4 linked regions of the Homo sapiens genome follow. The main gene of each other region encodes a partner of the protein of the gene in region 3 in a complex. Each region holds a gene or a part of one and is shown on either strand. Other genes may lie near its edges.

Region 1 (4,735 bases), on a different chromosome or scaffold from region 3:
TGAGGTACGAGAATTGCTTGAACCCAGGAGGCAGAGGTTGCAGTGAGCCGAGATCACACTACTGCACTCTAGCCTCGGTGACAAGAGTGAGACTCTGTCTCAAAACAAACAAAACCCCTTTTGTCTATATAAATTACCCAGTCTCAGGTATTCATAGCAGTGTGAGAACGGACTAATACACGCTTCTAATATAGATTTTTAGAAGTTAATACCAGTGAGCATTAAACTGCAGATTGGGTAAAATACATGTTTATTGCATGTCTGGTAGACATAGATGTGGCCAGGAGAGGAAAGGGGAAGACGTAAATGTAAGTTATATTGAGAGGTGAGAGAGATAACTGATGGTTAGTACTGTGGTTTTCCCCCTATAAAAGAACATATAGGCTGGGTGTGGTGGCTCACGCCTGCAATCTCAGCACTTTGGGAGGCCGAGGCGGGCGGATCACCTGAGGTCAGGAGTTCGAGACCAGCCTGGCTAACACGGTGAAACCCCATTTCTGCTAAAAATACAAAAAATTAGCCAGGCGTGGTGGCAGCACCTGTAATCCCAGCTACTCGGGAGGCTGAGACAGGAGAATCGCTTGAACCCGGGAAGTGGAGGTTGCAGTGAGCCAAGATTGCATCATTGCACTCCAGCCTGGGCAACAAGAACGAAACTCTGTCAAAAAAAAGAACATACAAATCTGCTATGTGAAAAAGTTAGCAGCTGGCACGGTGGCTCACACCTATAATCCCAGCATTTTGGGAGGCCAATGTGGGCGGATCACGAGGTCAAGACATCGAGACCATCCTGGCCAACATGGTGAAACCCCGTCTCCACTAAAAATACAAAAAGTAGCTGAGCGTGGTGGTGCCTGCCTGTAATCCCAGCTACTTGGGAGGCTGAGACAGGAGAATCGCTTGAACCTGTGAGGCGGAGGTTGTAGTGAGCTGAGATCGTGCTATTGCACTCTAGCCCAGGCAACAGGAGCAAAACTCCGTCTCAAAAAAAAAAAAAAAACAAATTAGCCAGGCTCAGTGGCGCGTGCCTGTAGTCCTAGCTACTCAGGAGGCTGAGGCAGGAGAATTGCTTGAACCAGGAGGCGGAGGTTGCAGTGAGCCGAGACCATGCCACTCCAGCCTGAGTGAGACTGTCTAAAAAAAAAAAATCTTTTTACCTAATGTCAGAAATAGAGTGTTTGAAGCCATTTCTGTCAGGTGTAGGATAAGTTTCTCAAAGTGAAATCGCTTTGAAGAGTGCAATGGTGTGATCTCGGCTCACTGCAACCTCCACTTCCCAGGTTCAAGTGATTCTCCTTCCTCGGCCTCATGAGTAGCTGGGATTACAGGCATGCGCCACCACGCCCAGCTAATTTTGTATTTTTAGTAGAGATGGGGTTTCTCCATGTTGATAAGGCTGGTCACGAACTCCCGACCTCAGGTGATCTGTTGGCCTCAGCCTCCCAAAGTGCTGGGATTACAGGCCTGAGCCACTGTGCCTGGCTTTTTTTTTGAGATGGAGTCTCTTTTGCCCAGGCTGGAGTGTAGTGGCACGATCTCTGCTCACTGCAAACCTATGCTGCCCGGGTTCAAGCGATTCTCCTGCCTCAGCCTCCCTAGTAGCTGGGATTACAGGCACCTGCCACCACGCCCGGCTAATTTTTGTAGTTTTGGTAGAGACGGGGTTTCACCATCTTGGCTAGGCTGGTCTTGACCTCCCGACCTCGTGATCCACCTGCCTCAGCCTCCCAAAGTTCTGGGATTACAGGCAAGAGCCACCATACCCGGCCTCTTCTCTTCTTTTCAGCCCACACCAGAATCGCCCTTAATGCTCAATTCTTTTTTTTTTTTGAGATGGAGTCTCACTCTGTTGCCCAAGCTGGAGTGCAGTGGCGCGATCTCGGCTCACTGCAAGCTCCGCCTCCCGGGTTCACGCAATTCTCTTGCCTCAGCCTCCCGAGTAGCTGGGACTGCAGGCACCCGACACCACGCCTGGCTAATTTTTTGTGTTTTTAGTAGAGACGGGGTTTCACCATGTTAGCCAGGATGGTCTCGATCTCCTGACCTCGTGATCCGCCTGCCTTGGCCTCCCAAAGTCCTGGGATTACAGGCGTGAGCCACCGCGCCCGGCCCTTAATGCTCAATTCTTGACAATGCAGGCTTTTCCCAGCATTTACTTCAAAACTCTTCCACCATCTAACCATTACTTAGTCTTAGGCATTTTGTTACAGCAGCACAAAATGGACCAAAACAGTCACCTTCCATGTTACGTTTCCAACCAGCCTTCAGCTGGATTTGAGAAGAACCATGGGACTCAGGGAGGGGAGGGGGAGAGTGTGTGAGTCACAGGTCTCCCAGATTCCCTTAGTGTTACAGCGTGGTGGGAATGACATCACTGTTTGTAGATCTACCCTTGTCAAGGGGGATCAAATGAGCAGGGAGGTTCTTTACCATCTTTAAAGATATTAAGTAGTCTGGGCACGGTGGCTCATGCCTGTAATCCCAGCACTTTGGGAGGTTGAGGTGGGCGGATCATGAGGTCAGGAGTTCGAGACCAGCCTGGCCAACATAGTGAAAACCTGTCTCTACTAAAAATACAAAAAAATTAGCCGGGTGTGGTGGCGGGCAACTGTAATCCCAGCTACTTGGGAGGCTGAGGCAAGGAGAATCACATGAACCCGGGAGGCAGAGGTTGCAGTGAGCTGAGATCGCCCCACTGCACTCCAGCCTGGGTGACTGCGAGATTCCATCTCAAAAAAAAAAAAAAAAGATATTATAGTAATACCTACTTTTTTTTTTTTTTTTTTTTTTTGAGTGCAGTGGCACGATCTTGGCTCACTGCAATCTCTGCCTCCTGGGTTCAAGCGATTCTCCTGCCTCAGCCTCCCAAGTAGCTGGGATTAAAGGCGCCCGCCACCACGCCTGGCTAATTTTGTATTTTTAGTAGAGATGGGGTTTCACCATGTTGGCCAGGATGGTCTCGAACTCCTGACCTCAGGTGATCCGCCCGCCTTGGCCTCCCACATATTAAGTAATACCTACTTTTGACAGCCATGAGTAGCATCTTTTTTTAAATGTGGTCACTTCTTTTTTCTCATTGCCAGAGTCGTGTCCCAAATGCGAACATCCTCGTGCTTACTTCATGCAGCTTCAGACCCGCTCTGCAGATGAGCCGATGACCACCTTCTACAAGTGCTGCAATGCTCAGTGTGGACACCGCTGGAGGGATTAGGGCCAGGATGGCCCAGCTGCCCTAGTGTGTGCTTGCCTTGTCCCTCGGGGTAGATGCTTAGCTGGCAGTATGAGTTGTGTGTCCTGAGGGTCTTTGCTAGTGTGGTGGAAAGATAAACCTTTTGAGGTGAAGAGCCAGGGGGTCAGGAAATATGGCCTATCTGCCAGGCAGGGTGGATGAAGTCATGAATGTCTGGGAGTTTTTCTGTGTGGGGAGGAGACAGAGACCCATAACTAAATATGCTCTGTGTAAAGTCCTATTCTTTCATCTTCCACTTTATTGGCAGTTGACATTCCCTTACTCCCAATCAACACTCTTAAATATTTGTACTGTTTGTAAAACTTAGTACATGTCCCTAAATATTTAACTGTTACTTGTAAACTTGTGTAATTTATTATTTATTTTAATCAAAATTCTGAATATTTCATTTAAATGAAAGTTGGAATATTGCCTTCTCAGTGTTTTAAATAGCTTAAGAGGTAGAAAGCAAACCCCAAATCACAGTGATCCCAGAATAGACTACATACTTACATTTGAACAGGCTACGAAAATGTTAATCACCGGGATTTCAATTTCTTTCTTTATTCCTATTCTTACTCCCTTATTCATTTTTTTGAACCTCCCCTGATTTGCTTCCTCGGGTTGCTTTAAATGTATAAGATACTATTTATTTATTTATTTATTTTATTTATTTATTTATTTATTTAAGACAGAGTCTTGTTCTGTCGCCCAGGCTGGAGTGCAGTGGTACGAATTCAGCTCACTGCAACCTCTGCCTTCCGGGTTCAAGGGATTCTCCTGTCTCAGCCTCCCAAGCAGCTGGGACTACAGGCATGCACCACCACACCTGGGTAATTTTGCATTTTTAGTAGAGATGGGGTTTCTCCATGTTGGTCGGGCTGGTCTCCAACTCCTGACCTCAGATAATCTGTCTGCCTCGGCCTCCTAAAGTGCTGGGATTACAGGCGTGAGCCACTGTGTCCCACCAATCTTTACATTTAATATGACTATTTTCTTATTGTTTGAACATGTTGATCAGTTCCTGATCACAATATGGGGCCTATCCTATATGGGTCCTAGAGTGGTTGGATTTTATTTTTTAACCTAAACACAGACCCTAGGTTTGAAAGGGTGTACTGGGTCTGTTAGACTTATAGGCATTTTTTTTTTTTTTAATACTTAGCCATGCATCTCTTGCATTGTCACTCCTTTAGGAGTGCATCTGTCTTCTAAGGGTTAGCTCTCCTAACTCTTTTAAATCCCCTCTAATTTGATTAATGATTGGGGGCAGCCTTCTGAACAATATTTCACGGGACGAATACCCAGTTTGTTTGGTGGGGGTGTACCTGACTTGGAGGAGGACCATGGGCGAGACCCGATCTTATTTTAGATGAGTTTCTTGACAAAATTTTTTCAGCAGCTGTTTGAGTGTCTGGTTCGTGCACTGTACTTGAGCTCTGTGGCCTGTAGGATGTACGCAATTTCCACTTTATTTTTAATAGTCTAGTTAAGTCCTGAACTCTT
Region 2 (7,322 bases), on a different chromosome or scaffold from region 3:
CCAGTTCCCTGTGGGAAATCACCCAGGTCACTAGGGATCGATAAGGAAGATGCCCAACAGCAAGGAAAACGGAAATGGGAGTGGGGAAATTCCACTGTTCTCGCCCTTCTCTGGGGCAGTCTGAACTGAAATTCACTGATTCCTTCCTTATACCTTTTTTCTTCATCATTTCAGCTGGGCCCTGCTCAAAGATGGAGTGAGACTGGATCACTTCTGGACGGCCTCGCCCTCGTCCATGCCCCTCTCGTTGTCGGTCTCTGTCCCTTTCACGCTTCTCCTTCTTGACAGTTACTTCTTCCTTGGGCCTGGAAAAAAGAATGGATTAAGGGAAACCACTCACTCACTGTGTCTCCAAAATCTGGCCTTACTCTCCCATACCACTTCACTCCAAAACAGTGGAGAGTTTGAGCCAATATTTACACCATGAGAAGCAGAATCCAATCCTAATTCTAGCACTTTTCTCACTTCCTTGATGAGGCAGGATTTTTTCAGTTTGCTTTACTTTACCTTCTTGTCCAAAAATATAGATTTTTGTTTGCATTGGGACTGAAAGCAGGAAGGCAGAAATGCAAAGGAACTTCAGGGAAAGTGTGATACATCTTTGTTTAAACTATTGGCTCTCAACTCGGGCAACAAAGAGAATCACTCCATTCTACTGCCAGCAAGTTAAATCACAATTTCTAAAGATGGAACCCTAGACACCAGTAATTATTTATTTATTTATTTATTTTTTAAAGCTTGCAGAATCACCTAGGAGCCAGGGTTGAAAATCACTAGTGAAAAGAACTAAAGATATAAATTTAAATTTTGGAGCTACAAACCTAGTTATTTCCCCCAAAGCCCCAAATTCAGAGCAAGTAAATAAGGGGCAAGTATTCAGAAGGCCTAGCTACTTACTCTTCCTTGATCTTCCGACTGATGATATTTGGGGTGAAGGTTTTCTGAAAGCAAAATACAGGAGTCACTGATGTGTTAGGTTCTGACCCCAAAGTACAGAGGAAAATAAAAATTCCCAAAGGGCATCTTCTACAGACCAAGGCCACCACGGCTCTCGTTGGCACATTCCACAGTGCTGTCAGTTTTATAGATACACATGTGCCTGAAAAGGAGGAATGTCATAGTGTGGTAGCAGTGGAGTTACACATAGAAGGGGGCACCAAAACCCACTTTTAACCAGCAGCCTTAGGTTCTGCCTCTGAAAGAAGATCCTCTGGGACTTCTAAAAGCAAAGGAATTTCTCTGGTCTCACCTCTTCTCTTCAAACTGCTATAGAGACCAGTCAGTATCATGGGGGAACAGCTCTAGCAGCAAGGCCTAAGTAGGGAAGGCCATAGATCTGCCAACACTTTCAATCAGGTGACTATGGACTGTCACCACAATTTTCCAAGGCAAAGTTAGGTTTTTAAAAACTGCTTTATGGCTGGGCGTTGTGGCTCATGCCTGTAATCCCAGCACTTTGGGAGGCCAAGGTGGGTGGATCACGAGGTCAGGAGTTCAAGATCAGCCTGGCCAAGATGGTGAAACCCGTCTCTACTAAAAACTACAAAAAGTAGCTGGGCGCGGTGGCGGGCCCCTGTAATCCCAGCTACTCGGGAGGCTGAGGCAGGAGAATCGCTTGAACCCGGGAGGCGGAGGTTGCAGTGAGCTGAGATGGTGCCTCTGCACTCCAGCCTGGGCGACAGAAAGAGATTCCCTTAAAAACAAAACAAAAAACCAAAAAACCGCTTTATTCGGCCAGGAGCGGTGGCTCACACCTGTAATCCCAGCACCTTGGGAGGTCGAGGCAGGCGGGCGGATCACGAGGTCAGGGGTTCAAGAACAGCCTGGCCAACATGGCAAAACCCTGTGTCTACTAAAAATACAAAAATCAGCTGGGCATGGTGGCGGGCGCCTGTAATCCCAGCTACTCAGGAGGATGAGGCAGGAGAATCGCTCAAACCTGGGAGGCAGAGGTTGCAGTGAGCTGAGATCGTGCCATTGCACTCCAGCCTGGGGGACAACGGCGAGACTTCCTCTCAAAAAAAACCAAAACCAAAACCAAAACCTGCTTTGTTCTTCTGTCATCCTGACCCCACCCCTTTCTGGGCTACTCTTGACATCCACAGTCATATACACATGGGAGAGGCCACAGAGCCTCGAATGCCATACCTAGGATTCATCATACTCTAGATAAAAAGTTTGCACACAGAGATGGTGAATTCTGAACCCTCTAAGACTGCGAAGTTTATGCCTGTCTGGCTTTCATGGGTTTCTTAAAGATGTCCAAACACACAATAAAAGTAAATAAACACTGTTCAAATTGCTTTTGAACGACTTTAACTTATTAGGATTCTCTGCCCTTCAACCACCTCTGGGAGTCATTTCAACATCTTGTACTCAGTACCTAGATTTGAAGGTAGGACAGACTCCCTAGAATTTAAAGAGGGGTAGGCTTGAGAGGCCCAACGACAGTCCTGACACACAGTAGGTCCTACACAAACATTAGTTGAATCCTGGGGCTTGGAATTCAAGGTAGTTGAGTTTCTTTAGAAACGCGCCGTTGGGTACCTTCTTGACTCCCCCGAGGGTGAGGTCCCTGGAACGGATGGAGGGAAGGCGGCCGGGGGTGAGGGGAGGCGCCGGCCGCCGCCCGATGAGCCCCCGGGCCCCAGTCAGGAGAGGTCGGGGCCCTCCCGGCGTGCTGGGCTCGCCGGCGGCGTTTCCTTCCGACATGTTGCCTGGGAGAGAAGGGGCGACGAGATCACCAGAGGGGACTGACACGCGGACCCTGGCGGAACCCCACCCCCTTGCTTTCCGGTCCCCCAGTCGGTGCGTCCCTCCAGTGGCCTCTCAGCTCCTCCCCTCCCACGTGGCGAGACTCCCGGGACCACCCAGGTGAGAGCCTTTGGCTCGCGACACGCCCTCTCCAGGAACCCCGCCCAGGAACCAGACAGGGACGCACCCGGGCCGCGGCTCCACACCGCGCGTCACAACCTCACCTGCAACGCGACCAGCCGCCAGCCTTCGGTCTCCGCGCCGGGCGGAAGTCTGCGTGGCAGGGCCTGGGCGCCGCCATCTTGGCGCGGGGCGGAAGTGACGTTAGGGGGGCGGGACTGGGCCACAGTATTTATCAGGCGGCGCTTCGCTCCCCTCCGCCTTCTCTTCCCGGTTCTTCCCGGAGTCGGGAAAAGCTGGGTTGAGAGGGCGAAAAAGGATGAGGTGACTGGTCTGGGCTACGCTATGCTGCGGCGCTCGGGGGTCTTGGCCTCCGGGCGGTGGCGTGGAGGCGCCAAGATCAGGGTCCCGGGTTTTGTCGGCCACCACGCCGCAATGTGAGGATTCGCCTCGGCGGAGCCCCTGGGAGCTTCGGGGTAGCTGCTCGGGATGGGGCGAGGGGCGCGGCGCGGCGCAGAGAGTGAGACCTGGACTTAAGAGTCGGGGAGTCCTGGGCCACACCGAGCCCTGTCTGCGGGTTCTCCATGGTGACCTTGGAGTGGTCATTACCTCCGGGCAGCGACCTCGCCCACTTTCGGGGACCCCTTCCCTGTGCTCCTGGTGGAGTCCTGGGGTGAGGCTGTGGGGGCAGCTTGGAACAGCCGCAGTGGACCAACCGGTGCCCAGTCATACCCGCTTCTGATCACGAAGGCGGTGGCCCTCGTGTGCGCTCTTGGTCAAAGCCTGGAGGGAATTGGAATACCAAGTTTGCTCTACTGCTGGAGGAATTTAAAGAACTTTTGTTGACTCCAGCGTTTGTGATTTAACATAAAAGGTGTCATTTAATGTTATCCCCCATCCCCCAGACCGTATAAAAACCATGTAACAATATTATGGGGAGTTTGAGGAAAGGAAATCATTTCTACCAGAATGCCACGTAGAGTACTACTATTAAAAATTTTGTAATGTATCTAGTAGTCTTCACAGAGTTGTCGTATCACAATTTCGTGTCCTTTTTCTTTTCTTTTCTTTCTTTTTTTTTTTTTTGAGACGAGGTTTCTCTCTGTTGCCCAGACGGGAGTGCAGTGGTGCGATCAACACACCGCAACCTCTGCCTCCCAGGCTCAAGCCATGCTTCCACCTCAGCCTCCTGAGTAGCTGGGACTACAAGTGCATGCCACCACGCCCGGCTAATTTTTTCTTTTTCTTTTTTTTTTTTTTTTTTTTTTTGTATTTTTCGTAGAGACGGGGTTTCACTATGTTGCCCAGGCTGGTCTTGAACTCCTGAGGTCAAGTGATCCCACCCGCTTCGGCCTCCCAATGTGCTGGGATTACAGGCATCAGCCACCACGCCTGGCCTGTATCCTCCTTTTTCAAATAACATTTCTCTGTTGCGACATCAAAGACTGCGTAGTTCTCCAGTGGCTGTATCATGATTTAAGTATTTCCCTGATTGTTTCTTTTTTCCCTGTTTTAAATAATGCTGCAGTGAATGTCTGGTACATTTGACTTGCTTTTTTTCGATTTTGTTTTTGTTTTTGTTTTCTTTTGGATTATATTCCCGGGATAGATTTCCCGTCCTGGGATAACTGGCCAAAAGAAGATTTTTTTTTAAGTAAATATTTGCGATAGGCACGGTGGCTTAGGCTTGTAATCCCAGTGCTTTGGGAGGCGGAGGTGGGAGGATCGCTTGAAAGGCTCGGCAGTTGGAGATTTCAGTAAGCTATGATCCAGCCCTTGCATTCCAGCCTGGGTGACACAGCAAGACCCTATCTCTAAAAACATTTTTTAAATTAAACTTTTTATTTTGAGAACATTGTAGGTTCATGTAGAGTGGTAAGAAATAATGTAGAGAGATCCCAAGTACTGTTTACTCGTTTTCCCCCAGTAGTAACCTCTTGCCACCAGAATATTGACATTGGTACAGTTAAGATACAAGAAGTTTCCATCACCACAAGGATCCCTCTAGTTGCCCTTTTATAGCCACACCTCCCTCCCCCCACCTCCTCCCACCACTAATCTGTTCTCCATTTCTGCCATTTTGTTATTTCAAAAGTGTTACATAAATGGAATCATACAGTATGTGACTTCTTGGGATTGCTTTTTTCACTCGGCATTGTTCCCCGCAGATCATCCAAGTTGTGTGTATCAATAGTTCGTTCCATTTTATTGCAGAGTATTCATGGTTTGTTTAACCATTCACCCTTTGAAAGACATCTGGTGGTTTTCCGTTTGGGGTTATTATGGATAAAGCTGCTGTGAAAATACATGTACAAGGTTTTGTGTGAACGTAAATTTTTATTTCTCTGGGATAATTGCCCATGAGTGCAATCATTGGGTCATATGGTAGTTGTATCTTAGTTTTATAAGAAACTGCCAAGCTGCTTTCCACAGGGGCTGTACCATTTTGTACATGCACATTTTATGGTTCTTCATTCATATTGCTAAATTGCTTTCAAAAAGGATTGTGTGGCCGGGCGTGGTGGCTCACGCCAGTAATGCCAGCACTTTGGAAGGCCGAGGTGGGCAGATCACTTGAGGTCAGGAGTTCCAGACCAGCCTTGCCAACATGGTGAAATACTGTCTCTACTAAAAATACAAAAATTAGCTGGGCGTGATGGCACACGCCCATAATCCCAGCTACTCAGGAGGCTGGGGCACAAGAATCGCTTGAACCACAGAGGCGGAGGTTGCAGTGAGCTGAGATCACGCCATTGCAGTCCAACCTGGGTGACAGAGGGAGACTGTCTCAAAACAACAAAAACAAAAAAAACCCCACAAAAAAACAAGATTGTGCTGAAATGCATCAACACTAAGAATGTGTGTATATACAATAATCAAACGTATATACACACACACACTATATACACACACACACATTGTGGGCTTTTGAAGGACTCCTGGGTGAGGCTGTGTGGGCAGCCTTGGAACAGCCACATTGGATCAACCGGTGCCCAGTCCCACCCTTCCTGGGCTCACAGCAGTGACCCTCATGTGCACTTTTGGTCAAACCTGGAAGGAATCTGAATACCAAGTTTGCTCTACCGTTGGAATTTAAAGAACTTTTATTGGCCAGGTGTGGTAGCTCACACCTGTAGTCCCAGCACTTTGGGAGGCTGAGGTGGGTGGATCACCTGAGGTCAGGAGTTCAAGACCAGCCTGGCCAACATGGTGAAACCCTGTCTCTACTAAAAGTACAAAAATTAGCCAGGCCTGGTGGCGGGCATCTGTAATCCCAGCTACTCGGGAGGTTGAGGCAGGAGAATCACTTGAACCTGGGAGAAGGAGGTTGCAGTGAGCCAAGATTGCGCCATTGCACTCCAGCCTGGGCAACAAGAGCGAAACTCTGTGTCAAAAAAAAAAAAAAAAAAAGAGCCGGGCACAGTGGCTCACGCCTGTAATCCCAGCACTTTGGGAGGCCAAGGTGGGCGGAACACGAGGTCAGGAGTTCAAGACTAGCCTGACCAACATGGTGAAAACCCGTCTCTACTAAAAATACAAAAATTAGCCTAGCGTGGTGGCATGTGCCTGTAGTCCCAGCTACTTGGGAGGCTGAGGCAGGAGAATAGCTTGAATCCGGGAGGCGGAGGTTGCAGATAGCTGAGATTGCGCTGGAGTGTAGACTCCAGCCTGGGAGACAGAGCAAGATTCCGTCTCAAAAAAAAACAACAAAAAACAACTTTTATTGACTCCGAAATTAATGTGTGTGTAAACACACACACACACACACACACACACACACAGAGAGAGAGGTAGTATATAAGAATATATAATTTTAGGGCTTGGTGGCACCCACCTGTAGTCCCAGCTACTTGGGAGGCTGAGGAGAGAGGATCGATTGAGCCCAGGAGTCAAAGGCTGCAGTGAGCCTTGATTGTGCTACTGCAGTCCAGCTTGGGAGACAGAGGAGACCTTGTCTCAAAAAAACAAAAAAGAGAATATATAATTTTTTGGCCACATCCTTTTGAGTATTGGCTTTTAAAATTTAGAACTTTGTTTGCCAATTTACTAATATATTAATATTTTGTTATGTTGTTTTCTAAACAGATCCTTTTCAACTTCTTTCTTCATGTTGATTTTACAATAATCAAACCAAACCAATACCCTTTTCCTGTTCCCTACAGAGCTACACGCAGCAGCCCTTAGCTTCTAATTAGAGCACTGGATGAAATAGCTTTGATTTCATTCTGTTGGGCTTTGAAGTTCACCAGGTAGTAGCTTTTTTAGTTTTTTTTTTTTTTTTTGAGACGGAGTCTCGCTTTGTCGCCCAGGCTGGAGTGCAGTGGTGCAATCTCGGCTCACTGCAAGCTCCACCTCCCAGGTTCATGCCATTCTCCCGCCTCAGCCTCCTGAGTAGCTGGGACTACAGGTGCTCGCCACCATGCCTGCCTAATTTTTTGTATTTTTAG
Region 3 (7,033 bases):
AGAATGATGAAATTGACTGTGCAATTCAAATAAATTATCACTATTATGTCATCATATAGTTTTCCTATGGTGTTGTCCAAAGCATTACATCTGTTTTTTAAGAAGTTATAAAGTCTTCAGAGACTCTTATGTTTGTAGTTGCTCTGTTTTAATTTTCATTTAATACAATTGAAAATTTCAAAAATTTTTAATTTTTTGCTCATAATGTCTAAAATTGACAGAAAAACATGTTCCACAATTCTTAGACGAATCAGAAGTCAAATGCAAAGAGATAGATAGCTCTCTGGATGCTCATGATGATGATGAAATTGATTGTATAAGCAAAATCTCAGACTGTGAGTCTTCAGATGACAGTGTCTTCAATGAATTTTCTCAAATTCAAGAATCAATGAGTAAACACTGTATCTCCAAGAATTAAAAAGGAATTATGGTGGCCTTCTACAGTCAATCTTTGAAAAAGAACTCATCATGTAATACTTTGTAACAAAAACCTGGAACATCCTGTTTGCTAAAATGAGACGATCATTTTTGTTCTATGATATTTGTGCACCAAAATTAATTTGATGTGTTTTGTAACTGACAAATGCTGAACATAAAGGCAAAGACAACAATGATTGAAAGGAAATTGATTATATAGACATGAAATTGTTTTCTGGATTGATTGTGTTAACTGGTGATTATAAATTTAATAATGAAAATATTTTGCAAGTATAGAGCAAAGAAGATGGCTGGGCCATCCTCTCTTCAATAGAAGTATGAGACATCAGCCGGGCGCAGTGGCTCACCCCTGTAATCCCAGCACTTTGGGAGTCTGAGGCAGGTGGATCACGAGGTCAGGAGATCAAGACCATCCTGGCTAACATGGTGAAACCCCGTCTCTACTAAAAATACAAAAAATTAGCCAGGCGTGGTAGAGGGCACCTGTACTCCCAGCTACTCGGGAGACTGAGGCAGGAGAGTGGAGTCAACCTGGGAGTGAGCCGAGATTGTGCCACTGCACTCCAGCCTGGGCAAGACTCCGCCTCAAAAAAAAAAAAAAAAAGTATGAGACATCAAAGTTTTTTAAAGTATTGCATTTTGGATATGTAAGTACAAGAAGAAGAATTGGAAGTAGTGATAAGCTAGATTCTACTAGAAATGCATTTATAATCTGAAATTATTTAGATGATACACATATGAGAAAACCAGAGGAAATTATAAGTTAGAACCTATTAAAGATGTCTTTGGAATCTGGGATCAGGACGTACAGAAGGCATATATTCTAGGTTTGTATGTGGCAGCCGATGCACAGAAAACTGCATTCAAATGACTTTGCCCATTTTGGTTAAATTTACCTTCAAAATCAGTAAAACATGTAATATAAATTTGGATTTGCTATACTTAATTGCTTAGTAAAATCTCCAATAACTTTATTTATTTATTTTTATTTGAGACAGGATCTCGTTCTGTCACCCAGGCTGGAATGCAGTGGCATAATCTCAGCTCACTGCAGCCTCCACCTCCCAGGCTCAAGTGATCCTCCCACCGTAGCCTCCCAAGTAGCTGGAACCACTGGCATGAGCTACCATGCCCAGCTAATTTTTGCATTTTTTGTAGAGATGGGGGTTTCACCATGTTGCTCAGGCTGGTCTCGAACTCCTGGACTCAAGGGATCCAGCTGCCTTGGCCTCCCAAAGTGCTGGGATTACATCCTGAGCCACTGTGTTGGGCCTAGTTTTATTGATTTTTAAGTAACAGCTTTACTGAGACATAATCCACTATATAAAATTTACTTTTTAAAGTGTACAATTCAGTGACTTTTAATATAGCCACAGAGTTGTGCAATCAACACCACTATTTAATTTTTTTTTTTTTTTTTTTTTTTTTTTTTTTTTTTTTTTTTTTTTTTTGAGACAAGAGTCTTGCTCTGTTACCCAGGCTGGAATGCAGTGGCATTATCTCAGTTCACTGCAACCTCCACCTCCTGGATTCAAGTGATTCTCTTGCCGCAGTCTCCCAAGTAGCTGGGATTACAGGCACGTGCCACCACACATGGCTAATTTTTTTGTGTTTTTAGTATAGATGGGGTTTCACCATGTTGGCCCGGCTGGTCTTGAACTCCTGACCTATTAGCAATCTACCTGCCCCAGCCTCTCAAAGTGCTGGGATTACAGGTGTGAGCCACTGTGCCCAGCCACTATCTAATTTTTTAGATGCTTTTCATCATCTAGAAAAGAAATTCTGTACCCTTTAGTAGTCATTCCCTACTCTCCCTCCTTCCAACCCATGGCACCAGAAATCTGCTTTCTGTCTCTAGAGATTCCATGTCATATAAATGGAATGATGTAACATGTGTCTTTGGCTTCTTTCACTTGCCATAATGTTTTCAAGGTTCATTCATGGCTTAGTACATATGAGTGCTTCATTCCTTTTTATGGCTGAATAATATTCCACTGTATGGATATATGCCACATTTTGTTTATCCACTCATCACTTGATGGGCATTTGGGTCAGTTCACTTTTGGGATTACATGAGTTATCTTGTCATAAACATTCATGTACATGTTTTATGTGAAGACATGTTTTCATTTATATTGGGTATATACATAGGATCATATGGTAACTCTGTATTTCACATTTTGAGGAACTGCCAAACAGTTTTCTAAAGTGGCCACCCGATTTTACATTCCCATCAATAATGTATGAGAGTTCCAATTTTTCCATATCCTTGCCAACATTTCTTATTTTTTTTTTATTCTAGCCATCCTAGTGGTTGTAACACAGTATCTCATTGTGGTTTTGATTTGAATTTCCGTAATGATTGGTGATGTTGGACATCTTTTCATGCTTTTTGTCCATTTTTGTATCTTCTTTAGAGAATTGTCTATTCAAATCCTTTACCTCTTTTTAATTGGGTTCCAATAATTGGTTTTCAATATCTGTTCTTTTATCTGTTATCTTTTTTATTTATTCTCTGTATTTCATTATTTGAAATTAACTTAAAAATATTTTAAAATATAAAAAGTGGTCTACTGTACCCAGAGAAAAAGGGTAAAAACTGTTTTTTTCCGGTATACTGAGGGTTAAAATTATTTAAAATATGGAAACTGTTTTGGAGAAAATTCTTAAAAAGAAGTCATTGTGTTACAAATTCTAGGAATCTCTCATTTGTGCTGACTTCGTTTTATAGATTAAAAACTTGGCAAGATTAGTTAAAACATTTTACCTGAAGTCAAACAGTTAAAATACCTAGAAAAACCTGATCTCTTGGTCTCTGATCTACTACTTATTTTGGTTATCTTTCTCTAATACGTGGTTGTATTATTTGGAAGCATATACTTGACATAGAAGAAAAATCAGTATATATTTGGTCCTTGATTTTTATCCATTCATCTTTAGTATTACCTTCCCTTTTTCATGCCTAACTCCTGAACTACTTTTTATGATGAACATGGCTTCAAGCTTTTGTGTGATAGTGTTGCTTTCCAACTTGTGCTGCTGGAAAAGAGTTTGTGCCCTCCTTAAGGGTGTTTCTTGTGATAAGGTGGACTAGTCTGAATCAAGAGCCGCAGTTATGGCTTTACTGGTTTTGGCAAGCTCAGAGGGTTCCTGCAGAGTTTTCAGCAATTGGCATGTAGGGCTTGCAGCTTGCTCATTTATGCCTCAGATCAGTAACCCCTCACCAAGTCCATCCTTGCCTACCCCTACCCTTTTTCCCATTCTCTTATGTACAAAGGTGGGAAACTCCCTGTATGTAAAATTAAAAATGTTGTCTGTTGTTTTCAATAATCTTAAAGGAATGGCTTAAGTTCAGGGTTACTGTTGATTTTCCTAATGAGTTCTTTATTCTTTTTTCCCCTAGATATTGAAAGGTATAGTAAAAGATACATGAAGGTATACAAGGAAGAATGGATACCAGGTAACTACAAAACACACAATATGAAAACAGTTTTTAAAGGCTGTCTCTCTCACCTCATGTTTTTTTTTTAGAATAAGTTTTCTATTTTTACCATAGGAAAACTGAGTCTGGTTCTTTTATTGTGATTAATTAGTAATCTGTTAGAAACTAAGGTGAAAAGATTTTTATGCTAAAACAAGGAAGAGTTGAAGTGCTTTTGTGGAAGTTCTTAAAATATATATATATGTATATTTTATTTTATTTTATTTATTTTTTTGAGATGGAGTCTTGCTCTGTCGCCCAGGCTGGAGTGCAGTGGCACGATATCGGCTCATTGCAAGCTCCACCTCCAGGGATCATGCCATTCTCCTGCCTCAGCCTCCCGAGTAGCTGGGACTACAGGCCCCCGCCACCATGCCCAGCTAATTTTTTGTATTTTTAGTAGAGACGGAGTTTCACCGTGTTCGCCAGAATGGTCTTGATCTGACCTCATGATCCGCCCGCCTCAGCCTCCCAAAGTGCTGGGATTACAGGCATGAGCCAACACCCCCCACCCTTAATATACATTTTTTACAAAAATAGGACAGGCCAAACAAACCCTTTGAATTTTCCAATTTAATTAGCCACAATCACAATTTTAATTTGTAATACCAGAAAGCACAAATACTATGCTCCTGAGCAATTTTAGAGCATTTGAAGAGAAAGCAAAAATCTCGTTTTAAAGATATTTTAAGCCAAGCTCATGGATCTTCCTTTCTTTTAAGCAGACATAGACTAGTTTTAGTTGTTAGGCTTCTTCAAAAGAACCATATCCAAAAAGAAGCTTTACCTTGGGTATGGACAAGTTAGAAGGGTCTGTAAAGGAGATCTCATCCCACTCATTCATTTTGCAAATAAAAACAGTTGTCATAGAAATAAAGTGACCTGTCAGGCCATGTGGCCAATACTGTTAGAACCCAGGTCTTCTCATTTTAATTCACATTCTTTTTATGTCTCTGTCCTTGGTCTTTTATGGAAACTCCCCTTATGTAAAAACATAGATGGCATTAACAGCCTTATCATTTTCACAGATTATAGTACTATCTTTTCAGTGTTGGTAAGGTTGGGGCACCCTGGAAACAACTTAGGTCTCTCATTTCTTCCGTTTCATTAGTATTCATCTCTCAAATGATTCTCTACATATTCCGTCATGATCTAAAATGAATAGCTTATAAAAACTAAAATATATTCAAAGCAAAATTTATTTTTCAGGTAAAATGACTTGAGATTTAAATGCTTTGTAAAAATGCTCCAAATTTTCTTTAAAAGCAGGCAATATTTTTAAATCAACTTTTATGTTGCTTCCATTTCCTGTTTAACTCTATGCTTAAAAATTAAAAGAAAGTGACACATTAGAGGAATTATTTAGCTAATACAAGCAAAATTATTTATTGGAGGAGATTTGTTTTTGACAGCTATTTATATTTTTAATTTTAAAGTTTTCAGATATTACAATTGTTTATTTCATTTTGCATGTTTTGGGATTATGGTAACATCCTTTTGAAAAAAAAAATTTGTTGCATAAGAAATATATCAACTACAGAATATATCAACTACAGAAAACTTATGAAATATAAAGTGGTCAAATAAATATAAATAATACTTAAGAAAAACTGTCATAATTCCAACACCCACAAATAATTACCATAAGGTTTCCTTCACCAAAAATTTTATAGCACTATTTCAGAGCTATTGTAATAAATTTTCTTTATAGGAGAAAATATATCATTGTCTGTAATATTTGGATTTGGTTTTTATATGTTTCAAGCTAAATTTGTAAAGTCAGATACTAAGGCACTTTATTGTCATTTTCTGGACAACTGTTGTGTCCTTCAAATAGTTATGTTCAATGCCACAAATTCCTAGAGGAAACTGCAATTTTTTATTTTTTATTTTATGTACAGATTGGAGAAGACTTCCAAGAGAGATGATGCCAAGAAATAAATGTAAAAAAGGTACATTGACTAATATAATAGTAATTCAGGTAGGAAAAGGTTATTTCTTACATTCTGTTAATATGGATTTGTCAACCCAAAGTTATACTCACTGTTCTTAATGCTTTTCTTATTTTGAGCCAGACAAGGGATCTCATGCCTGTAATCTCAGCATTTCGGGAGGCTGAGGTGGGAGGATCACTTGAGCCCAGGAGTTTGAGACCAGCCTGGGCAACATAGTGAGAACTTGTCTCTACAAAAAGTTAAAACAAGTATTAGCCAAGTGTGGTGGCATGCACCTGTAGTCCCAGCTACTTGGGGGTCTAAGGTGGGAGGATCACTTGAGCCAAAGAGGCAGAGGCTGCAATTAGCCTAAACTGCACCACTGCACTTAAGCCTGGAAGACAGAGCAAGACCCTGACACTCTGTCTAGGACACTGACTCTCTCCCTCTCTCTGTCCCCCCATGTATGTGTGTGTGTGTGTATATATATGCATTATAACTATTTTGCTAAAGCTTGTTTTTTGTTGTTTGTCTTTTGGGTGTTTTTTTTCTTAGTTGTTGCCTTTTCTTTGTGTATGTCTTATTTTTTAATTTTTAAATGTTTTATCTTTTTTTAAATTTCTGTGTTTATTTTAGATACAGGGGTACATGTGCAGGTTTGTTACATTGGTATATTGCACTCAGGTAGTGAGTGTACTACCTAATAGGTAGTTTGTTAACTCACTCCACCCCGTCCTCCCCTCCCGACTTTAGTAGTTCACTGTGTCTGTTGTTCCCATGTTTATGTCCATGTGTGCTCAGTGTTTAGCGCCCACTTATAAGTGAGAACATGCAATATTTGGTTTTCTGTTCCTGCATTTATTCACTTAGGATTTTCCTTTAGTTATGGAATTGTGGAGCTGCTAAGAAAGACTTTTCAATTATTGTAGACCTTTTCATTTGCATAACTGCAGATTTTTTATTATACTGGCTACATTATAAATTATTAACTAAAACATTTTAAAATTGGGAAACCAATAAAATGGAGCTTTATGTTGTATAGAAGAATGCCAAAGTGAATGTTTACAGTTTGTTTTTCTTTAGTAATTTCATTCAGTAAATAGTTATCTATTATTGCCAGACATTGTGCTGACAGGAATAAAACTGAGCAAAGTGGGAATAATCCTTGTCCTCATGGAGC
Region 4 (6,846 bases), on a different chromosome or scaffold from region 3:
GGCTCACAAAGCCTAAAACATATACTGTCTGGCACTTTATAGAAAAAGTTTGCCAACTCCTGAGCTAGAAAATTGATGGGAAAGGTTTAAGAAAAGATTCATCGGACCCCAAATCTCCACATCCAGAGCCCTTGGAAATCCAACAAGGCTAGTAGACTTAAAAAACAAATCAGTCATTCAGATGAGGCCTTGGCGTAGAACTCTTTAACCTAACTGCTACTAAAGCCAAACTGAAATGCTCTTAGGAAAAGGATGTTTTGGTGATGAGGGAAAGTAAGGGAGATTTAGAGCATCGGCACCACTTGGTGGGTTTTTAGACAGTCTTGCTTGTTTGTTTCTGGACAGATGGAGAATGGCTTCACTGATAAATTCCATTGCAATGTCACTGGGGGCTAAGGCTGCACTTCCTCCCCAAAGCCCAACATTCTTCATTCAACTGGACTCATTCTTGCTTCCTGAAATGCTCAGAGTGACAATGTGGAGAATGAAACCCTGATGACTGGGCTCTGTGACAACTCATAGGAAAATCGGGGGGTGGAATATTTTATGGGAAATGGCCCAACACCAGCAGTAGGAAGCAAACAGAAGGTGAGAACAGACTAGACCTATGTATGGCAGTGGCAATTAATAAATACAACAGTTATACCATAATACATTTATTTCATTTGTCTTATAACGCATAATTATTTCTTCTTTTTTCAATTCAGGTAGTTTGAGCTGTTTCCTGGTTTAGAGTCTTATCAGTCAAACCTAACACACTTTCTCGTTTTATGACTGCTGTATTAGGGTTCTCCAGAGAAAAAGAACCAATAGGATACACCTCCCTCTTGAAAGATTCATCAGAAGCTATTTGCTCTGTGATTATGGAGGCTGAGGAGTCCCATCATCTGCCCTCTGCAAGCTGGAGACCCAGGAAAGCTGGTGTTGCAGATCAAAGGGCTGAGAGCAGAGAGCTGATGGTGTAGATACCAGTCCAAGTCTGAAGGTCTGAGAACCAGGAGTGCTGAGGGCACAAGATTCATAGCCCAGCTCAAGATTGAATTCAAAGAGTGAATTCAATCTTCCTCTGCCACTTTGTTCTATTTAGGCCCTGAATGGATTGGATGATGCTCACCCAACTGGACCCATATCTACTTTACTCCGTTCACCAATTCAAAATGCTAACCTCTTTCAGAAACACCCACACAGACACTCCAATAAAATATTTAACTAGATATGTAGGAATCCTGTATCTTAGTCAAGTTGACATGAAATTAACCATCACAACTACATAATAAAAACCAGTGATAATCAGCATATCAGTAATTATGCAAAATAGTTAGATTCACCTTACCATAGACAACAACCTATTGATGGCTACTGCCCGCTGCTGGGCTTCTATATGAGGCATTTCATTCTGAATTACTTGGTCTGTGATTCCATGAGGGAACTGGTGACATAATTCTATAATCCTAGAAACAAAGGTATTAATGTTATCCTTCATGGTTACCTGTTTCAAGAGACAGTGGGGGTAAAAATACAAGTAGAATAGTTTGAAACTGTGCCTTTTTCACATTTGGCAGACAATCTGGGTTTCTGTGATGGTTTTGGATCAAAGCATGTTAGAAATTGAAGAAGATGATTTCTAAATACATGTTTACAGTATTATTGTTATTTAAGAATATTTCTTTTCCTCACTAATAAGAACTTTAAATTAGAGCAAAAGTCTAATGAAATCACAGAAAAAATATTAAAGCTGAGACTTCAGTTTTCTCGGGTGTAATAAGCATGACAAAGTTAAGCCATAAATCTGCAAGCAGGAGGCAAATGCAGATGTTTCTGGTAGGAAGCCAAAATTTGTTATGACAATTCACCATAATGGGGCCTGTTTTTGGAATTATACCTACCAAACAAAAAAAGTCAAAATCTTCACCTAGTCGACATCAACAAATGTATTATTCCTAACAGTCTGAGAAAGTTGAGTCTTTTAAAACTACGTGAAAATCTAAGAGTGGCAGTGCCTCGGTAAAATATAAAACTGGGCCGGGCGCGGTGGCTCACGCCTGTAATCCCAGCACTTTGGGAGGCCGAGGCGGGCGGATCACGAGGTCAGGAGATCGAGACCATCCCAGACAACATGGTGAAACCCCGTCTCTACTAAAACATAAAAAATTAGCTGGGCGTGGTGGCGCGAGCCTGTAGTCCCAGCTACTCGGGAGGCTAAGGCAGGGGAATCGCTTGAACCCGGGAGGCGGAGATTGCAGTGAACCGAGATCGCGCCACTGCACTCCAGCCTGGCGACAGAGCGAGACTCTGTCTCACAAACAAACAAATAAAAATAAAAGTGGCAGAGGCTTTGGGTGTCCTAAAAGTCTTGAGTTCAATACTGCACTGAAACCACCTGGCTTAATGTTACTTCGTAATCACCAACTGCGCCCTAACTCCGCCTAAACGTTTTGTCATAGACGTTCCCTTAGTGACAAGAGCGATCCTGGATCAGAACATGTATTCACAAGTGTTCTACAGGGAAAGAAAGCCGAGGGCTCCTCTCAAAGCACTGATCGCGTCAAAGTAGGAAGGCAGCACGTCATCACAACTTCCCCAAAAGTATCAGGGCAAAGCCAGCCAGCTACACAAAGTTGCAAGCTGTCAAACCCATTTTGAACTTCTTGAGTTCTGCTCTCCCAGGATGGGAAGGAACAAGTGGGTCCAGAACCCCGCAATCGTTTTTCCCGCGTGCTCACCTAACCCGCTCCGGCCACTCCCAAGGGATCCCGGAGAAGGGGTCCAGCTGCCCAAATGACTGGGCGCCTGATGGAGTGCCAAGCCGGAGCCTCACTGGTTTACCTGTTTTCTATTTCGACCGGATCCGCGTCAGGCGGCTGCACCTTCACCTTCACCTCCGCCATGAGGGCGCAGTTCCTGACGCCTGGGGGGAAAGATGCACGGAGCAGCCCGGTAGCAAGCCGGGGAACCCGGGGAACCAGTGGAGGATAGCGCTCTGCTGAGGCCGAGGGGCCTTCTTCCTCGTGTCGCAGCCGGTCCTTCCTTGCCTTTCGGCGGGAGGTGGCCAAGCTGCGCCTGCTCCGGCCCACTTACAGGCGCCGCTACAGCTTCTTATTCTTGTTTTCCAGAATGTCAATGCCCATCGGACGCACAAGCCTGGTTCCTTCATTCTGAGTTGGGAAACCAACTTTTAGCACTTGGCAACTCTGTGAAGGAATATTCTTAGATGCCTATGGGAAAGCACTGGGAAAGGAACTCCAGGCGGGTACCAGGCTCCCTGCGGAGCGGCAGGGGCCGGTCTAGTTGCTAAGAAGCTGAGTCTCCACCAATCATCTGCCCAGCACCCAGTGGGCGGGGCGCGGCTCGCCGCGTCTGTGGTAACCCGGGCGGCGGCGAAGGAGGAGGCAAGAGGCGGTGAGAGGCTGGCGACTGGGTTGGGCGCGGCAGAGATGCATTAGGGGTCCCGATCCCGGGCCCCGCGGTTAGAGGAAGAGGAGGGCGGCTAGAGGAGGGGAAGAGCTTCCCTTACTCCAGCCGAAAGGATGCAGGTGTCCTTGGCAGCCCCTGATGGGCGGGAACAACCAAACGGGATTCCGGATCCGGGCTGCGAGGGGGCGGTCCACGTTGGGAGAGTTGAGGGGTCTGGGGATCCTGTTGACTGCACGTTGCCATTTGGGCCTGGCGGATCCGCCTTTTTTCTTGATTCCCTTTGCGTGGGGCCCACTGGCCACCCCAGCTTCCTAAGGGCAGCTGCTAGTTGACGCTCGCGAATTACTTCCTCTCCTACATATTTTTTATTTAGAATTTTTCAACTACTTTTATTTTATCTGCCTTTCACTTAAATGGAAATGCGACTATGGGCAAGTCTCAAGTCCAGCCACACTCCCGTAGGAGCTATTGTTGTGCTGTCAGTATCTGTAGTTTATATTCTTGGCCCTAGATCCGGAACTATCCAACAAGGCATTAAGTTCACCCCTTAAATTTAGGTACCCCATTTTTGAGAATACAGTCTGTGACAAAGCTCAAACTGCAGACATGTTCAGATCAGCATTATTAGAACTGCAACAGGCAAAACTAAAAAGAAACTAGAAATAGCCTAAATGCCCAGCCACAAATGGATAAATAAGTACAGGGAAAACTAAATAATACAGTGAGAATGCAAGAAGTAGACTATAAAAATGGAATGAATATGTAGATTATAATTGGGCAAAATCTATGGATTATTAATGAAATTTGAAAAGGCAATACAGAGATGTAAATGGTTGTTGTGTTAAGGTGAGCGTTTTTTCCCCCTGAAACCTTCTGTGCATTAATTATGACAACCTTCCTCCCCACCCTCACCTCCAAAAAGACCAGTAAGGCTTTCATACTGGTAGTTAATTATTAATACCAGGATTTATAAATACAGTAGATGAAACGGGAGGCTTGTGTTTATTGGTCACTGTTTATATTCTTGCAAACTTCCTTTCCACTGAGAAGTAGTACTCTGCAGTCCTTCTAAAGTGTCTTTGCAGCTTTCAAATACTAGAACTGCTCTGGTGATAATGGCAAGGCTGTGAACCCGGAGCTTTCCCAAAAAAGTTAGCTCTAACTAACATTTTGTGGTACACACAGAATTACTTCTGTTCCCCTTGTATGATGACTTGCCCTGAAGCCAAGAGAGCTGACACACACCAGAGGCAGGAAAAGGCGATAATGATTTACAGGGAACTCAAGTCAGAGCGTTAGTGATAGTCTCTGTTTTGCCTTACTCATTTAATTTGTCCTTTTAAAGTAACTTCTTTCTTTTCCCCATCTCATTCATTCATGCTCCTTTCGCAGAAGTGAGGTATTTAGATAATCAAAACCCCACACAAGACCTCAACAGCAAATACAGATGAAATGTAATTATTATTTCAATTAAAAAGGGAATAATATTTGTAGTGCCATGTTAACAGTATTCTCTCGTTTTAACTAGTTTTGCTGCATTTAAATTAAGTGCTGCTCTTCAGCTTTTGTGTACATTGGAATTTATATGTATATATATATAGAGAGAGAGAGAGAGAGAGAAAATGACTGCTGGTTCAGTGTGTGTCCCTCAGATCATACCATTACGAGTGCCTCAGCCTGGAAAAGCTAACCATGAAATTGATAACAATACGCTTTTGGAAATGAAATCAGGTAAGAATCACATATGTTTGAAATTGTTTAAAATAACATTGTCATATTTCTTGTGTTATCTGGTTGCTGGTTTATCTCTTTGCCTGCTTTCTCACTCTTTGCTCAGCTTTTTGGGAAATTTGTAAAACTTCTAAAATTTGAAACAGTGCTGTACATTGATGGTTTATAGAGTGGTATACATTTAGATTAAAATGGTTAGCTTTGACCAACCTTTCATTTGTATAGTTTCAGCAATGTCTTGACTTACCTTAGCCAAGGTAAGATGTCCCGGTGCTGGCCGGGTGCGGTGGTTCACACCAGTAATCCCAGAACTTTGGCAGGCCGAGGCAGGTGGATCACTTGAGGTCAGGAGTTCAAGACCAGCCTGGCCAACATGGCAAAACTCTGTCTTACTAAAAATACAAAAATTAGCCAGACATGGTGGTGGGCACCTGTAATCCTAGCAACTCAGGAGGTTGAGGCAGGAGAATTGCTTGAACCTGGGTGATGGAGGTTGCAGTGAGCCGAGATCGCGCCAGTGCACTCCAGCCTAGGCAACAGAGCAAGACTCCGTCTCAAAAAAAAAAAAAAAAAAAAAAAAAAGTCCCGGTGCTCCCCAAACTTTTCCAATATGCTCATTATTTAGCTGGTATAATAAATTTGACCTACTGATACAGGCTTTCCAGTCAGACAGGTTGGAGACTTAATCCCTGCCTTGACAACTTCTAGTGACCTTGGGTACATTACTTAGCCTTTTTGAGTCTGTTACCTCACTGTAAGACAGGAATAATAATATCTACTTCTTAGAGCCATTGTGAGGATAAATAGGTTCGTGTATGTATGAGGTGCACAGGGTTTGGCATATAGTAATGTGAAAATAAATCTCAACTCTAACTACAGAAATAAAGCAGTGAGGGCCAGGCCTGGTGGCTCACGCCTGTAATCCCAGCACTTTGGGAGGCTGAGGCAGGTGGATCACCTGAGGTCAGGAGCTTGAGACCAGCCTCCTGTCTCTACTAAAAATACAAGATTAGCCAGGCATGGTGGCCAATGCCTGTAATCCCAGCTACTCGGGAGGCTGAGGCAGGAGAATTGCTTGAAGCCAGGAGGCGGAGGTTGCAGTGAGCCGAGATGGCGCCACTGTACTCCAGCCTGGGAGACAGAACAAGACTCCATCTCAAAAAAAAAAAAGAAAAAGAAAAAAGAAATAAAGCAGTGAATGTATATCCTGCTAATACGTATTCTTCAAAATCTTAAATATGTGTGTATATCTACACATACACATATATATACATACACATATATAATTAACATAAGGAAGGAAAGTTTCACAGGTAAAACATATGAACAAATAGATGTGTAAAAAAGACTTTGAAATTCCAATTTTTGCCTTTTTTTAACCAATTATATATTTTAATAACTGAAATGTGTACAAACTATCTGCATTTATGTTATGACCCCTGTGCTGCTTAGACCAAGAGTTCTAACTAAGCATATGTATTATTATCTGTGTTCTCCTTTAGCTTAAAAGCTGATACAATTTTTTAAACTGTCAAACCAAATTAAACATTTTAATGTATGTGCCCATAATTCTTAGGAGAAGTTGGGTGACTATTGACAAAAGATGATATGAATGGTAGGGTATCAAAATTCCCTAATATGTAAATATCAAATAAATAAATAGTTTTCACAATTCAGTAACAAAAAGAACAGTAACCCAGA

What was found.
Region 1: POLR3G (region 3) and POLR3K share a complex: the UniProt entries of both Homo sapiens proteins name them as parts of the RNA polymerase III complex.
Region 2: POLR3G (region 3) and POLR3D share a complex: the UniProt entries of both Homo sapiens proteins name them as parts of the RNA polymerase III complex.
Region 4: POLR3G (region 3) and POLR3F share a complex: the UniProt entries of both Homo sapiens proteins name them as parts of the RNA polymerase III complex.

Annotation. Positions count from the first base shown.
Region 1 is NC_000016.10:45,906-50,640, reverse strand, and holds the end of POLR3K (DNA-directed RNA polymerase III subunit RPC10), read left to right. Parts: intron 1-3,083; coding exon 3,084-3,211; 3' UTR 3,212-4,234; downstream 4,235-4,735. UniProt on the Homo sapiens protein: Core component of RNA polymerase III (Pol III) which synthesizes small non-coding RNAs using the four ribonucleoside triphosphates as substrates. Can mediate Pol I proofreading of the nascent RNA transcript.
Region 2 is NC_000008.11:22,240,840-22,248,161, reverse strand, and holds the start of POLR3D (DNA-directed RNA polymerase III subunit RPC4), read right to left. Parts: upstream 3,030-7,322; 5' UTR 2,979-3,029; intron 2,718-2,978; 5' UTR 2,713-2,717; coding exon 2,548-2,712; intron 942-2,547; coding exon 898-941; intron 306-897; coding exon 154-305; intron 9-153; coding exon 1-8. UniProt on the Homo sapiens protein: DNA-dependent RNA polymerase catalyzes the transcription of DNA into RNA using the four ribonucleoside triphosphates as substrates.
Region 3 is NC_000005.10:90,491,836-90,498,868, forward strand, and holds part of POLR3G (DNA-directed RNA polymerase III subunit RPC7), read left to right. Parts: intron 1-3,841; coding exon 3,842-3,898; intron 3,899-5,820; coding exon 5,821-5,871; coding exon of another isoform or gene 5,872-5,900; intron 5,901-7,033. UniProt on the Homo sapiens protein: DNA-dependent RNA polymerase catalyzes the transcription of DNA into RNA using the four ribonucleoside triphosphates as substrates.
Region 4 is NC_000020.11:18,463,549-18,470,394, reverse strand, and holds the start of POLR3F (DNA-directed RNA polymerase III subunit RPC6), read right to left. Parts: upstream 3,006-6,846; 5' UTR 2,889-3,005; coding exon 2,827-2,888; exon of another isoform or gene 2,724-2,826; intron 1,452-2,723; coding exon 1,334-1,451; intron 1-1,333. Other genes in the region: DZANK1 (double zinc ribbon and ankyrin repeat-containing protein 1), read left to right, coding at 3,528-3,533, 5,016-5,145. UniProt on the Homo sapiens protein: DNA-dependent RNA polymerase catalyzes the transcription of DNA into RNA using the four ribonucleoside triphosphates as substrates.